Regions from separate parts of the Homo sapiens genome. Here region 1 is linked to region 2. Evidence: fine-mapped expression QTL. Tissue or cell type: esophagus mucosa. Region 2 holds a variant in brackets; the other region holds the start of a gene. All regions are shown on one strand. Distances are between the middles of the regions.

Region 1 (8,000 bases), 35 kb before region 2:
CTTTGCTGTTGGGGTTCTGGGGTTTGGCCTTCTCCCAGGGCGCCAACGTCTTGTCGTCGTCCGCGCTGTCCACCAGGGCCTTGTCAGCGGGCATGTACCAGGCAGCGCTGTGCTCTGCCATCAGCGAGTCCAGGTCAATGGTGCTCATGGCGCTCTTGACCGCCTCGGAGCAGCAGCTGCCCAGCTCGCTGTCGCCATTCTGCGCCCCTGAGGCCCCGACGGCGCACTCACCCTTCTTGCCACCCTTCAGCCCCAGAGGCTGGTCCTCGGAGATGCTGAACTGCTGCCTCTGTAGCTGGATCTGCGCCTGAAGGATCTCCAGGGGGTGGATCTCGTCGGGTGGCGGGGCGCCGCTGCTGCTCGTCGGGGTGCGGACCTGCTCCAGGCCCGGAGTGCCCGGATGGCCCGGGCCCCCACCGCCGCCGTAGCTGTCAGGGGTCGAGGTAGAGTTAGACATGATGCCCAGGCCGAGGGCGGGCGGGGGCGCCTTCGGTCCGTGTTCCCCGGCGCCTACCCCACGGGGAGGGAGTTTGGGCGAGCCGGTCACCAGGGGACTCCTGCTCGCTTTAACTAGTGCCTGGGGGTTGTCAGAGCTGGACGACACCTCGTCCTCATTGGCGTAGCTCGTGCTCACCTCGTCCGAGGCGAACTCACCCACGTTTGGCGAACTACTGTCCGACTTGGCCCCGCCGTCCAGGGACCCAATGAGGTCCGGCTGATCCCCCAGGAGCAACTCAGCCCCCTTCCCCCAGGATGGCGACGTGAGCGCCTTTTCGTGGGGCGTCGGTGCCCCGCGCGTCTCGCCTGCGGAGCTTCCCCCGACGGCTGCGCCTGACGCTTGCTGCTGCCCTGGGCTCACCCCAGGTGCGCCCCCGCTGTCCGGAGCCGCCGAGTACTTGTCAAAGAAGGTGCCAGGGCTCACGTGACCACTGTCCCTTTTTCTGCGACCCCGTCCCCGGCCGCCGCCCCCGGAGACCGGCTTGCCGTCATTCCCCGACGTGGATTCCAGGGTGTAGTTGGGGGAGAGGCTGGTGCCGTCCCCCTGGGCTGGAGGGTTGGGCGGCCCCGAGGCTTTGGAGCCGCTGCTACTGGTCCCGGACGGGCCTCCGGGTCCTGGGGCCCCAGGAGCAGTCCCTCCTGGGAAGTAATCCGAGCCCGGGTTGCCGGCCACTGCCGCGCCGTCGGTCTCGTTCTGGCTCAGTTTCCTCTTGCCCTCTGGCGGGTTCTTCTTGTTGAAGGTCACGTTGAGGTTGGGGGCCCCGAGGCTGGCGATCATGTTCTGGCAAGCGGTGGAGAGCGCAGCCAGGCAGCTCTGGCCGAACAGGTTGTCCTTGGAGCTGGGCTTGTTGAAGGAGCCCAGCGAGAGCGCGCCCAATTTACTGGCCGAGGTGCGCTGGCTGGGCTGGAAATCAGGCTGCGGCGGGTAGGCACCCCCGCCACCGCCGCCACCAGAGCTGCCACCGCCCCCTCCCGCGCTGGGGGGCGAGTTCACGCCTGGACCGCTGTGCGGCGTGGACTGCCGGCCGGCTGCACCAAACGGAAAGCCCGGCTGGCCCCCGAGCGCAGACGTAGCAAAGTCCGGCGGCGGGGGCCGGCGCTCCGAAGCAGCGCTGGGGAGCCCCACGCCCGCCCCGGGCGACTGCAGCTGACCCAGGCCTCCCAGACTGCCCCCGAACTGCAGGCCCGGTGAAGGCAGCGCGGGCACGTGGCCCTCTCCGGGCATCCTCATCGGCTCCTGCAGAGGGCCCCGGAACAGCACCCCCGAGCCACCAGGCGGAGGAGGGGGCGCCAGGCTGGGGTCGTGCGGGCCACAGTCAGCGGGCAGACCCGAGCCGCCCATCCTACGGGGCAGCAGGTCTCCGGGCGGCGGATGCGGACCTGAGAACCACGCGCTCTCTTGCGCCAAGTGCGGCGCCTGCTGCTCGAAGGTGCCCAGACGCCCGGCGCCCGTGCTGCCGCCTTCGCGCTCAAAGTTCGGCTGGGCCAAGCCGCCCACCGGGCCGCCATGCACCAGGCCGCCCTGGCCCACGTCCCCGGGGTGGCCTAGCTGAGCCAGGTTGGGCTGGCGCAGCCGCTGCTGCTGATTCCGCGACGCCATCTGCTTAATCATGAGGGCCGCGTTTTGGCGCTGCTGCTGCTGCTGCTGTTGCTGTTGCTGTTGCTGCTGCTGCTGCTGCTGTTGCTGCTGCTGCTGCTGCTGCTGCTGCTGTTGCAGGGACTGGTGGTCCGGGGCCGGATGCTGCAGGGGCGGCCCCGAAGGGAAGCTGTCGGGCACAGGCGGTGTGAACTCGCCGGGTAGGCCTGGGTAGGCGGAAGGGGAGAGGTGATTATCCAGAGCGCCGTTGTGCATGCTGCCGTTCCACGAAGCGCAGCGGTCCACTCCCGCGCTGCCCGGAAAGTCGAAGCGCGGCCTCTTGGCCACGTTCATGTAGGGGGGCGCGTCGAAATGCTGCAGCCGCTGGTTGGGCGCCTGCTGCGGAGGAGGATGCTGCATGCTGAAAACAGGCTCGGAATAAGGGTGCATGCTCCGGTTCTCCAGCCGGTGGATGGGATACTCGAATTGCGCGTGCTGGCTGGGCAGCATGGGGCCTCCGTCCTGCAGGCCGCCGCTGGGCGTGCCCGCCTCGCCCTGCTGGGGCCGAGGGAGCGCAGGCGGGCACGAATTTTGTCGGACTAGAAGCCCGGGTGGCGGCGGCGGCTGCTGCTGTGGCGGCTGCTGCGGGGGCTGCTGCTGAGGGGGTGGCGGGGCCTGCTGGGGAGGCTGCATTAACGGGTGCCTGGAGCCCACTGAGGGCTCCAGACCCACAGGCATCTTTCTGGCCCCACTGAACCTCTCAAAGAACACACCATGCTGCTGCTGCTGCTGCTGGGGCTGCTGCTGCTGCTGGGGCTGCTGCTGCGGTGGCTGGGCGTGCATTTTGGACAAGCCCACCATGCCCGCAGCTCTGGGCATGGCCGAGGCGCCCGGGAAAGCGCCCCCAGGAACCTGGCGACCCGCTGCATAATGAGGCAGCTGCCCTTCGGAGTCAGAGGGCGAAAACATGTCAAAATGTCCCGAGGGCGCCTCGCCCGGGTAATTGTATTCCAGCGAGTCGACGGCTCCTTGGTTCGTCACCCTCCGTGGCTCCAGACTGTGGGAATCGGAGCCGCTGGAGGACGGCAGGCCGTGGAAGGAGGCGGCTCGGTTAGGGCTCTGGTCCAGCGGCAGGCATGGGGCCGGCACGGCGTGGCTGGAGGCACCTGAACTGTGGAAGTCCGGGAGGTTCCCCGGTCGCTGCGGGCCGAAGCTCTCAGGCCCCTGGCTCTCCGCCATGTGCTCATAGCCCTCGGCGAAGGGCGGCTGGCTGCCCAGGCCTCCGGCTGCGCCGCCGTAGCCGAGCAGGCGACCCCCGTGCAGGCACGAGGCCCCGGGGTCCGGGCCACCGAAGTTGCCCCCAAAGTGGGGGTGATGCTGGTGGGGATGATGACTTCCCGGGTGGCCGTGGTGAGGCTGCTGGCCGCCAAAGAAGCCGTGCACAGGCTGCGCTTGCAGCCCCCCTGCGTGCAACTCCGAGTGGCCGCGCGCGTGGAAGCCGTAGGGCTCCATGTTCATGCCCAAGATCGGGGGTTCGCCCAGCGCGCTCATAGCAGGATCCACAGGGCCAGGGGGCCCCCCAGTGTGGAAAGCCGGGGCCTTAAAGTGGGTGTTCATGCTCAGTCCGGTCTCGTTAAAGTTCCTCTCGCCCTGGCCAGCGTTCCTGCTGTTGACCTGGGGCTCGAATTGGTCCAGCCCAAACATACTTGGCGGGGGGCAGAGGGGGATCAATAGGGCATGACAGCCGGCTCTCCGCGGCGCGCCTCCGGCCAGCTACTCGTTCCAGCCCAGGATTGGGCGCTCCGGGACGCTCAGCACCGCGGGGGCTCAGCGCGCACCTCCACCCCGCCTGATGTGAGGGACGGGGGGCGGGGTATTAGCTCCTCTCCTGAAGCTCCGATTCTGCCCGGGGAGGGCCTCTCACATCTTGCGAGGCCGCGGGGCCTCTAGGAGCCGTGTTGGGGGGCCCATGCCCCGGGCGGTTGTCACAGCCGCGGGTGGGTCTGCGGGGAGGGGACGAAGCCGCGGATGAACGGAGACAAAAAGTTAAGTGGGGGGAATGGGGAGGGAAGGGGGTTGGGAGAGCAGAGCGATCACCTTCTCAAGTCCGATTGGGTCTGCTGGGGAGCCCTCAGGACGCCGCCCGCAGCCTCCCGGAGTCCGTGGCAGAGCTGCTAAGGGCAGGGGAGGGAGACCCTTCAAAGCCGCGGCTGGCGCCGGGCACCGACAGAGCGGTCCCTCCCCCCGCCCCCCGGAGTCCCCGCGCCCCGCAGCCCGAGCCTCCACCGAGCACGATCCGCTCGCACAATCCCCGTAGGCTCCGGGCGAGCGGCTGCTGCTTCTTCAGCGGGTCGGAGGACTGGAGGCTCCGCTCGGCATCGCCGGTGCCGGCCCCCGAGCCGAGGACGCAGAGGGGCTGCGAGGCGGCAGGCGCCGGGGGCTGGAGCCGAGGGTCGGGGAAAGGCGCGGCTCCTCTGCTCGGCAGCGGGTGCGCTGCGTTCGGCGCGCAGCTTCGCGGCCACGTCCGCCGCCTGCCGCTTCTGTTCTCCGCCGTTGGGTGTCTGAGTTCGCCGGAGTCTCCGCGCACCGTTGCAGGCGCGGGAGGGCAGCGAGACGAGGGGTTGGGTCGCTCCAAGGCTCCGGTTCCCTGCCTCCGCGCTGAGGTGCTTCGCGAGTCCCTCTCGGACCTGAGGGAGGGGGGCGTACGCGGGTCGGGGGGCCACGCCGGGCGAGCAGGCTAAGGCGTTCCCGCTGCGCTCTCAGAGCCCGGAATGGGGGGAGGGGGGCGCGGGGGCAGCTCTGGGGGGTCTGCGCACCCCTCTCCCGACTAGCGGGGGGGCTCTGCGTGGGGCGTTCCGAGGGTCTCGGCTCCCCTCTCTGTGTCTGCCTCTCGCCCAGCGCCGGGAGAAGCAGCAACAAGTTTTGCATTTCAGCAATCAATTTCAGCCATTACATTTGCACCAATCAGCGCCGCCCAAGTTCCGGGCTCGGGGCGGGGCTCGCTCTTAAGGTGGTCCGGGGTCCTGGCTGCCGAAGCCCCCGCCACGAACCCGCACTACCCCAGCTCTGGGGTCCCCTGCGCCCGCCTCTCCTCGGGGTCCGGCGTCAGTGCGCTGGGGGCGCGCCCCGGCCTCCGGGCGCATCGAGCTGGAGAGGGTGCAGGCGGAGGAGAATGGCGGGAGCTTGGCTTTGTTCACCCCCTTCCCATTCACACTGTTCCCAACTCCCCACCCCCAACTGGAGCGAGACCCACCGGGTGGGCAGGGGGCGGGGAGGTGGGCGGTGAGCGGTACGGGGCGCTCAGACAATGAGGTCGCCAGGCAAAGACCCTAGACTCGCCACGGAAAGTCGCTAAGTGTCTACTGCACTTCGGCTCCGGGGTGAACACTCCGTTCTCCGCTAGCGGCGCCCAAGTTAGCCGGCCCTGGGATTTTCTTGGAGGGTAAAGCAGACGGGGAACCTCGAAGTTAGGGTTCTCCTCGAGAGACCTGGGCGCTTGCTCACTCCTCCGTCACTAGGGCGTTCACAATTGTTCCCCTTCCCCACTGCCTGGGGTTCCCGGTTCTCACCGGCCGGCGTGGGCTCCAAGGAGTCACAGTCACTCAGCCACTTTATGGGGGAGCACATCGGTTGAGCCCAGTAACCGGAGCGACTTGCGAGGCGGCTGGGAACCCCGAGAAGACACGCACGAAGAGGGCGCACCCGCCGGGCCGCACACCTTGCCCTGGGCCACCCGGTCCAAGACCCAGACCCTCTGCGGGTGCGAAGTTGGCCTCCTTAAGAGATCAATTAAACTGAAGAGGCCGAGGAATGGAATTGGGCTGTGATACTAAAATCAATAGGAGTAATTTAATATCTGCCCTGCTCTTTATGAAATATTTATCCCAATAATCTTAGTTAAAATGTTTAGATCGTCCTGATCCCCACAGAGGCTGAAATCTATCTTGCAATTAGAAGTTGGAAGTTAGAGGTGATGGAGGATAGAGGTGTTTATTCTGTGCGCCTGTGTGCGTGTGCTCGCGCCTGCGTGCGTGTGTTTGTGCATGCGTGTGTGTGTGTGTGTGTGTTCCTCCCTAAAGTGTGTGTAGGGAAGGAGGGGGGAGAAGGCCTTTAATTTTCCTTGCCATAAAATAGCACGAGGCGATTTTGCTAGCAGATTCGCATTCTTAGGAGAAGGGCGAAAAAAGAACTTTCTTTGAAGTGCCCCTGATATCGCTATTAAATCTAAATAAAATTAAGCGTGGTGTATGAAAATGCCTTTCCCCCCCCACAAAAGAAAGTGTTTATCGCCCGAGTCTGTCTAGCGTTTGCTAAATTACGCATGAAATCTGAAATGAAATAAACGTTATAATAAAACCAACCCCTGAGCCCTTTTTATTTAAAAACCTTAGATTAAGCACTCCACCGTCGCGGGCAGGAGTTAAAAAGTTACCATGTCGTACGCGCAGATTCATTGCTCCCCTGAGTTGCGGCTAGGAAGGCAGTGCTAAGTATGCCAGAACCGACATGCCGGGGGTGGGGGGAAATGGGCTCAACTTTGGGGTAGCGGCAGAATTCCTAAGAAATTGCCCCCCGCCCAAAAAAAATTTTAATTAAAAATAAACAAACAAGAAAAAACAACAACTTTAAAACTCAGCCAGAGCAAGCTCAGATCCAAGACCTTTCCCGGGGCCTTCCTGTTGTGGAAGTTTACAGACATATATATTTTTTCTTTTTTGAAATTAAAAATGAAAATTACCCCCATCAAAAATGGGGTCCATAAATAAGCATAGGGAATAAGTATTTGTACAGGGCGGTGGAGTTTTTAAAGGATTTTTCTGCAGGATCAGGTTGTTGGTCTGTGATTAAATATTGATTTTGTGTAATTAGTTTTCATGTGAACTATCCTCTTGCTGATAGCTTAGAGGTTTCAGAACTAGAAAAGAAATGGAATTGGACATGGAAATTATTACTTAGCAAAGTGACAGGGAAGTGAGAGCCAGAGAAAAGACTGAGGCTTTGCTGATTTAGGCACAAAGAAATAAAGGCTTGGGTAGGCCCTCCAGTGACACCCCCCCCCCGCCCGCCCCGGGGCCTAGGACCCTGGGGCTCTGGGGCTCCCGAGACAGAGCAGGGGGGATCTTGAACCTCCTGGACAAAAAGCGGGAGGCAATAGGAAAACCTGGTTGTGAGGAAGAGGCCCCCACATGGGCAAAGGCCTGGGCATAGTCCAAGATACTGGGTCACACACTCAGTCTGCTCTCGACTATGGGTGTCTCCTGAGGCACCTATGAGCCGCCTGTGTTTCTGTGTCTGGAGGAAATAGGGAAAAGTGGGGACCTGTCTGGAGCCTGGGGGTGGGCCAGGAGAGTGGGAAGAATGGCTCACAGGCCTGTCGTCTGGGGAGACCCGGATGGGGGCGTCTGCAGAGCTGAGGCATGACTTCACACAGGGCTGGGTGGGGGTCTCCAGCACACCTGGGCAGGTTTCCTGTGGAATAATTCCGTGTGCTCCAGGGAGGGGGGGTGTGGGAGTATTTTTCTGGGGCTGTTTCCAAGAGTTAGCTCCACAAGGTGTGTGAGTGGCTGAAAGAAGGGAGTGTTTGGACCTGGTGAAGTTTCTGTTCAGGATGTGTGTCTCGGTCACCTTTCTTTAACACTGCAAATGTTGTGCGGGTGTGTGGCACACGTCTGCATTTTGTGCCTTTGCTTGTATGCGGGTGGCGGGGCATCTGCGTGTGTTTCTGTCCATGCCTGCGTCGGCGTTCGTGCATGGATCTTTGGGGGTCTTGGTGCATGTTCTCTGTCTGTCCCCCAACCCCGCATTTCTGTGTGTGTGAGCCACTGCGTTTGTACCTGTGTGTGTGCAGCTGCCTCACCCCTTGCATGCCTGTATCTCTGCTCCAGTGTATCTGTTTTTTCTGCGAGTGTGAGGGCGTGTGCCTCAC
Region 2 (8,002 bases):
CTGAATGTGCACAGACAGGAGGGGGTGGAAATAAGCAGGAGAGGAAATAGCTGTGCGGTCAGAGTGGCTGCACCTTAGGCTGTTTTAAAAAGCTTATTTACAATTGTATCTCCTCATTTTCTATGTACCATTATTCCCATTTTAGAGAGGAGGAAATTGACGCCCAGAGAACTGAAGCCATTTGCACATAGTGGCTGCTGGGACAAACCTGGCAGTTGACTCTGAGCCCCTTTATGATCCTGTTTGTCATCCCCTACCTGGGCCTGCAAGTTCTGCAGCCCTTCTGAGAGCTGAAGGCAAAACCCTTGCCCCGAGAGCCTTGTCTTCTTCTCGATGACCGTCCCTGTGCCCTCATTGTCCCCACTTGGAGACTTGGTCTCAATTCTCCCTATCACAGACCAAGAAGGAGACATGGCCAGAGATGCCTCCCCGATAGACAAGAATTGCCTGGAAACATTCATGCTACCACAGCCTGACCTTTGCATGAATCTCGGGAACAAAGACCCCTTGCACCCACCAGGGCAACCCTGCCAGGCGAGCCAACAGAGTGATGTGTGGAGCCACCCGGCGTGGCGATCTGCTCTCCAGGATGCTATTAAATCTGACCTGGCAATTATAACTTTGCAATAGGTGACGGCCTCATGACCACAGTACATCCCTGGGCTCCAGGCTCTGGGGTCTGTGGAGAATTCTAGAGCATCAAGGCCAGGTAAACAGCCCCTTCTTTGAAGAAAAGTAGAAGACATAACCTATCTGCAGATACAGCTGGCTTTGCTGAGCCATGTATTAGGTGGTGCAAAAGTAATTGCGGTTTTTGCCATTACTGTCAATGACAGAAACAGCGATTACTTTTTTTTTTGAGATGGAGTCTCACTCTTGTTGCCCAGGCTGGAGTGCAATGGCACGATCTTGGCTCACCAAAACCGCCTCCCGGGTTCAAGCGATTCGATTCTCCCGCCTCAGCCTCCCGAGTAGCTGGGATTACAGGCGTGCACCACCACACCCGGCTAATTTTGTATTTTTAGTAGAGACAGGGTTTCTCCATGTTGGTCAGGCTGGTCTCGAACTCCCGACCTCAGGTGATCTGCCCGCCTCGGCCTCCCAAAGTGCCGGGATTACAGACCTAAGCCACTGTGCCCAGCTGTGATTACTTTTGCACCAATCAAACCACAATACTTTTGCACCAATCTAATACTTATCTCCTCTCCCTGACAACTCGCTAAGGTGCATGTTATTCTCCCTGTTTTACAGATGAAGAGCCTGAGGCTCCATAGGTGGGCAGCATCGCTGAGCTTGCAAGAGCCACAGCTGGGCTCCGAACACAGGCTCATCAGGCCCCACAAACATGCCCCTTTCCTCCAGCCTGGACTAAACAGCTGAAACAAACACAACTCTCTTCCCTCACCCACCCCAGCCCAAAATTCTTTACATTTGAGCCATATGTTCAGGAGTTTCCTGAAGACACAAGCCTCCTATTCAGACATTCACTCAACAAACATTCATTGGGCATTGATTGTATGCTAGAATCTGCATGCAGAGGTAGGGAAGCTTTCACAAACCAAAAAGCCATGGCCCCTGCCTTCTTGGGGCTCAAGCTAAAGGGAGAGGCCACCTCCAACAAGCACATGAAGCTGTATAGTTGGAACAATGGGAAGGAAGGTTATGAGATGCCATTTGGACGTCAGGGTTCTGGAGGGCTTGCAGGCAGCAGAAACAGCACATGCAAAGGCCCTGTGGTGGGAACAAAATAGGCCAGTGTGGCAGGAGTATAGTGAATGTTGGGGATAAAATACATTTTTATTAACTCCTCATACCAGTGGTTCCAACATCGCCACATGGCCACTGCACACTGCCTCTGAGCCTCTTGTACATAACCTCTAAATCTTTACAGTGCTTTCATGGTGAGGATATTTGCCCCCACTTCCCATTTTACAGGTGAAAGAAAATGGAAACTCAGAGAGACATTGAAAGTTCCTGAACCCAGCAACTGACTCTCAGCCTGCACACCCAGCCTCCGTGGTGAGGGTTTACCATGTGCCCGGCTCTGTACGAAGCACTTACACATCTTATTGCAACGAGTCCTTTCAGCAACCTGTGATGTGGAGACTCTTGCACAGACAAGAAAAGTGAGGCTCAGAAGGAGATGCGACCCACAGAGCCCAGAAGCTGCGGGGCTGGAATCTAAACCCAGGTGGGTCTGACTCCAAGCAAGCCAGCGCTGTTTCCCCAGGACCACAGTTGCAGCAACTTTGAGGTGTCTCTCGGGGCCTCGGGCAGAAGCCAGCCCCACTCTGCACACAGACATGAGTGATGAATTCACCTGCGGTTCCTCGTCTGGCCACTGACCTGCCGCCTCGGCAGATCCCCAGGCTTAACAATCTCCAGCCACAGAACTAAGAACTCTCCCGGTGACTGGGAGCATCTTTCTGTGAGTCATCTGAGGGCCTGGCCCCCCTCTTCATCCTGTAGGTCCCCTTTATCATCAGCCAATCCTTTGACACCTGCCACTACCTTGGCTGGCGCCATCAGGTTGAACCCCACTTCACTACTGCCTCAGTCTGGGTTCCCCCAAAAGAAGACCCTCGGGCAAGGATCTCGGGGTGAGCCCCTTGTCTGCCAGGTAATTCCAGGAGTAGGGTCGGGAGTGGGGAAGTGAGAGAGGAGGAAACCAGCGAAGGATGCATTAGGGAGTGGCTGACCACTGTGGGAAGCGGGCGCAGTCCTGCTGGGGACCTCTGGGAAACTGTGCACACTATGCTGCAGCTGCCCCAACAGAGGGGCGAGGGAGCTGGGGTATTTACCCACCAGTGCCCATCCCTCTCTGGCTGAGGGCTGCTCCTGAGGTGGGGCTGGGGGTGTTAACTCTCCAGCCCTTCTAGCCAGCCTGTCCAGTCACCCGGCCAAGAGCACAGGGGCTATCTCTCCGCAGATGACCTGCAGGGAGCCGAGACATGTGAATGGGGCATTGATTAGGGGAAGTTCATCCGTCCTTCCAGTCTGCCAGGCAGCAAACATTTCTACAGCCTCCATCCTATGCCTGGCAGTGCTACCATCTGAAAAGAGGCAGCCTGGAAGGGCAGAACAATCAAACGCCTACTATGCGTGAGGCACCACACTGAATACTTAAATATGCAATCTTTTCAAACTACATGTACATGTATAAGCATCAACACCACCTCACGGGGCCATGTGTGGTGGCTCACGCCTGTAATATCAACACTTTGGAGGCTGAGGTGGGAGGATCACTTGAGCCCAGGAATTTGAGA[T/C]CAGCCTTGGCAACACAATGAGACTACAAACAATAAACAAAACTAGCCGAGCATGGTGGTACGTGCCTGTGGTCCCAGCTACTCGGGAGGCTGAGGTGGGAAAATCACTTGATCCCATGGGGTTGAGGCAACAGTGAGCTGTGATCACACCACTACACTCCAGCCTGGATGACAGAGGCAGACCCTGTCTCAAAAAGACAAAAACGAAAGCAAACGCTTCAGCATATTTTGCATTCCCTACATACTGATTGTGACCAGTATGAGCATGTGAATCCCCCTTGGAACCCTGGCTTTGCCATCCATAAAATGAAACCCTGTCTCCTAGGGTTGATGAGAGGGTTACATTGTAAAGTTCACAGACACAGTGCCTGACACAGAGTAAGCATTCTGTGCTTGGTAGCGATTGGTAGCTATTCTTCTATTTTTCTCTTCTTATCATCATAGTTCACCAAATCTAAGACACTGCCAGTTGTAAACCACATCACAATTTTAGAGATGTTAAAATGAGGGAAGAAAAGCACTTCTTAGAATTGATGGGATATGGTCTTGTTCCCATTTTCCAGATTAAGGCGTTATTGAGGCTTGGGGCAGGAATAGCACTGGCCTGTTTTCCCCCTTTGATCCCTGCTTCCCGCCCCCGGGACAGGACCCTCACTAGGTCACCCTGGTGTCAGGTTCAGGCAGACTTTGCTGTTCATGCTAAGTTACAGGAGGAGAATCAACACTTTTCAAGCGGTGGATTAACTTATTTCAGTGCTGTGCCAAAGAGAACCAGAAGTCTGGAGCAATTATGCTGATGGGGCCCACACCCACCCAACACCCTCGTCCCGGCCTCCACCAAGATGACTCAGCCCAAATTATCCCCCTAATTGTCTCAACCCGTGTGGACTCCAGCTGGGGCCCTCCTTCCCCCAAACCCGCATGACTGGATCCTTGAGGGCTGCAGACAGGCAGAGCGCTCCCCTCTCTCTGAAACGGAATGTTGCTTTCCAGGCCCTTCCACCATTGCTCATCAACTCAGTTTCCACTTCCCTCCCGCTTCGGCCCACCCTCCTCTGCGCACAGGCCTGGTTGTTGATGGTCTTTATGAAAGCTCCTGGGCCAGGCATGCACTTTGGGAGGCCAAGGCGAGAGATTGCTTGAATCTGGGAGTTTGAGACCAGCCTGGGCAACATAGTGAGGCCCTGTGTCTTTAAAAAAATAATAATACATTATTTATTATTATATATATATATATTTTTTGAGACGGAGTCTCGCTCTGTCGCCAGGCTGGAATGCTGTGGTGCGATCTTGGCTCACTGCAACTTCTGACTCCCTGGTTTGAGCAATTCTCCTGCCTCAGCCTCCTGAGTAGCTGGGATTACAGGCACGCGCCACCACGCCCGGCTAATTTTTATATTTTTAGTAAAAACGGAGTTTCACCATGTTGGTCAGGATGGTCTCTATCTCCTGACCTCGTGATCCACACGCCTCGGCCTCCCAAAGTGCTGGGATTATAGGCGTGAGCCACTGCGCCCGGCCAATAAATTAATTTTAAATTTTAAATTAATTTTTAAAAAATTTAAAAAGTAGCCGGCATGGTTGCATATGCCTGTGGTCCCAGGCACTTGGGAGGCTGAAGTGGGAGGATTGCTTGAGCCCATGAGGTTGAGGCCGCAGTGAGCCGTGACTGCACTGCTGCACTCATCCTGCGTGACAGAGTGAGACCCTGTCTCAAAAAAAAAAGAAAGAAGGAGAGAGAGAAAGAGACAGAAGAAAGAAGGAAAGAAAGAAAGAAAAAGAGAGAAAGAAGAAAGAAGGAATGAAAGAAAAAAGAGAGAAAGAAAGAGAAAGAAAGAAAGAAAGAAAGAAAGAAAGAAAGAAAGAAAGAAAGAAAGAGAAAGAAAGGAAGGAAGGATGGAGGGAAGGAAAGAGAAAGAGAGGAAGGAAGGAAGGAAGGAAGGAAGGAAGGAAGGAAGGAAAAGAAAGAGAGAAAGAGAAGAAAGAGAAGACAGAAAGAAAGTTACTTCTCTGAATAGACCTCCCTTTGGAGATCCCTGTTTCTTCACGCTGACCCTGCCTTACCCTGTTGCTAGGCCTGGGGGAGGGGAGTACTGAATTTTAAGTCCCTTGAGGGGAAGAACTATCTTGCACTGCCATCTGGATCCCACCCAGCAGAGGTCATGGCACAGAGATGATGTTCAAGTTAAGTGGGATTGGATGGAGAGAAGGAAATAAAAAAAAACCAAAGAAGTTTGATCATGGAAGAACAAAGGGGGCCTCTTAAGAAGGAGGGGATGTGCTAAGGCTGAATCAGCCTCCCTTAGCAAGAACAAGAAGACATAACAGCAAAAACAAGCAGACACAGTGATGTTTCACATAAACCAAAGAACACACAGGATCTCCAGGCAGATGGGAGAATGCACTCAGGGGTAGACTTTTGTATTCAGGATTCAAAAGAGAATTTTTTGTTGGCTAAGAAAGCTTTCCTAGTATGTTGATTTTATGAATGCAGAAGTCTCATGAATTGGACAGGTGTTTTTTGAAGACCCATTGGGGAGGCAGATTGGGAGTCATGGGCCCCTGGCTCAGGCTGTGTTCATTGCAGACTGGGAGACACTGGGAAACTTACTCACTTATTTTAATTGGCAGGGACACAGGAATGAATTGATTCCCTCAAGGACACTTGTTTGTGAGAGGCTCAATATCATCATTGGTCTAGACAGCCCCTCAAACCCAGTCAACTCCCCTCCCCATAGCCACAGACATGGGCCATCCTGTATTCAACATAGTTTTGTTCTTCCAGGCTATCTGCCACCCTTTTATATACACACATGTATATATCCAAGAACTGCCGTGGGTAAATGGTTTTTAAAATGAACATATATGATATTACCAACTGTGGCTCCTTTGCAACTTTCTTTTCTTGGTCAATATTAATTTTTAAGATTCATCCTTGCTGGTAAGTGTGGTGATAACTCACTCCTTTTCATTGCTGTATAATAATCCATTTTACAAATATCCCTTTAAAAAAAAAAAAGTTTAAGAGACAGGTTCTTGCTTTGCTGCCCAGGCTGGAGTATAGTGGCATGATCATAGCTCACTATAACCTCGAACTCCTGGGCTCAAGTGATCCTCCCACTTCAGCCTCCCAAGTAGGGGGGACTACAGATGCACTACCACACCTGGAGAATCTTGTTTTTTAGTTTTTATAAAGACGGGGGTCTCACTCTGTTGCCGAGGCTGGTCTCAAACTCCTGGCCTCAAGCGATCCTCCTGCCTTCGCCTCCCAAAGTGCTGGGATTACAGACGTGAGCCCCTGTGCCCACCCAGTATCCGTTATTATATCTATCCATTTCCCCACAGATGAACATCTAAGTTGTTTCCAAACCTGACCCACTAGACGCTTCACTTCCTCCTTTCATGGTCTCATCTATAAAAATGAGATGCCACAGATGACTTCCAAGTTGCCACAGGCTGGCTGCTTCAAATGCAGACTTCACCCCCAGGAAGCTCACAGTTCAGCCAGGGAGCCATGATTTGTACATAAGTGAAAGAAATCTCACTCCATGACTGAATTGGGTGATAACTGGCATCTTAATCCTCATCTCTGTTATTGGCCTTTAAACCCTTGCCACCCAGAGAATGCTTTGCACAGTGTCTGGCACTCCTGGAAGAGTGAGTGAGGCCAGTGGGTGGTATGGCATGGGTGAGACAGGGAGGAGTGGGGTGCAGCTCTGCCAGTTGCATCAGTTGCATCGGGGGCCCCTGCCTGGTGCATCCATAGCAGCCCAGCCTGGGCAGCTTCCTGTCCCAGCCCGGCAGGATGCACCTCACGTCACACAGCGGGAATCCTCTTGCTGTTATTTACATTGCTTGCAAAATCCAAGAAATCATCCCTGAATATGTGGCCCAATGTCTTGAGATTAAATCCTTTTAGCAGGATTCTCTTTCCCCAGTATTCTCCTGTGATCCAGACCACAGAGCCCGCCTGACGGTGGATCCGGATTTGATGTTACTGGGAACAAGAAAGAAACCGTGTTGCGAAAGCTCGGAATCAGATCTCCGGCCCAGTGGAAACACTGCCATATGCTTAATTGTGCTCCAATTACACAGAATGCTCCAGAATCGCTGCTCTGAGGTGGAGAGACGCTAATGGCCATCATTACATTTGGACAGCCCTGTTCAGCTTTATGTGATCTTTGCAACTACTGTGTGGTTCACTGAGAGTTGCTGGCCTATTTTAACACAAGAGAGACGGTGGAGTTTCTCATTTGCAAAAGCTGACTGAGCACCTAGGATGGACCAAGCCTGGTTCCAGCCACTGAGGACAGTGCAAACCAGGCTCTCATGGAACTTCTAGTCCAGTGGGGAGACAAGCAACACACACACGCACGCGCGCACACACACACACACTGCCCGTAGAGATAAGTGCCGTGAAGAATTAAGAGCTATGAGAAATGGGAACAGGGCCTAAACAGTGGTCCAGGGAGGCCCCCTGCAGAGGAGCATTTGGGTACCTATGTGAGGTAAGGGAGGGAGCTGCGAGGAGGAGATCTGGTGGAAGAGTGTTAGCAGCGGGAACAGCCAGTGCAAAGGCTAAGGGGACCTGCTTGGTGTGTTGGACAGCCGGTGTGGCTGGAGTGGGGAGAAGGACTGGAAGATGGGGAAAGGATGACACTTGTAAGGGCCACAGGAAGGAATCTGCACTTCACTATGAGTTGCATGGGACAGCTCTGAGCAGAGGAGGGATGTGA

Evidence for each region. PIP is the estimated chance that this variant, and not a neighbour inherited with it, causes the effect.
Region 1: MN1 starts here. The variant in region 2 is fine-mapped to the expression of MN1 in esophagus mucosa (GTEx, PIP 0.97).

The regions. Positions count from the first base shown.
Region 1 is chr22:27,796,766-27,804,765 of GRCh38, forward strand. It overlaps MN1 (MN1 proto-oncogene, transcriptional regulator), which reads right to left and starts at 4,991. Exons shown (of 2, transcript NM_002430.3): 1 at 1-4,991. The coding sequence starts at 3,778. RefSeq lists enhancers at 1,965-2,511, 2,512-3,057, 7,400-7,964, 7,965-8,000.
Region 2 is chr22:27,832,249-27,840,250 of GRCh38, forward strand. No RefSeq gene overlaps it. Among named protein-coding and RNA genes, the nearest start is that of MN1, 34 kb to the left of the region's middle. The variant T/C (reference allele first, on the strand shown) is at 3,267.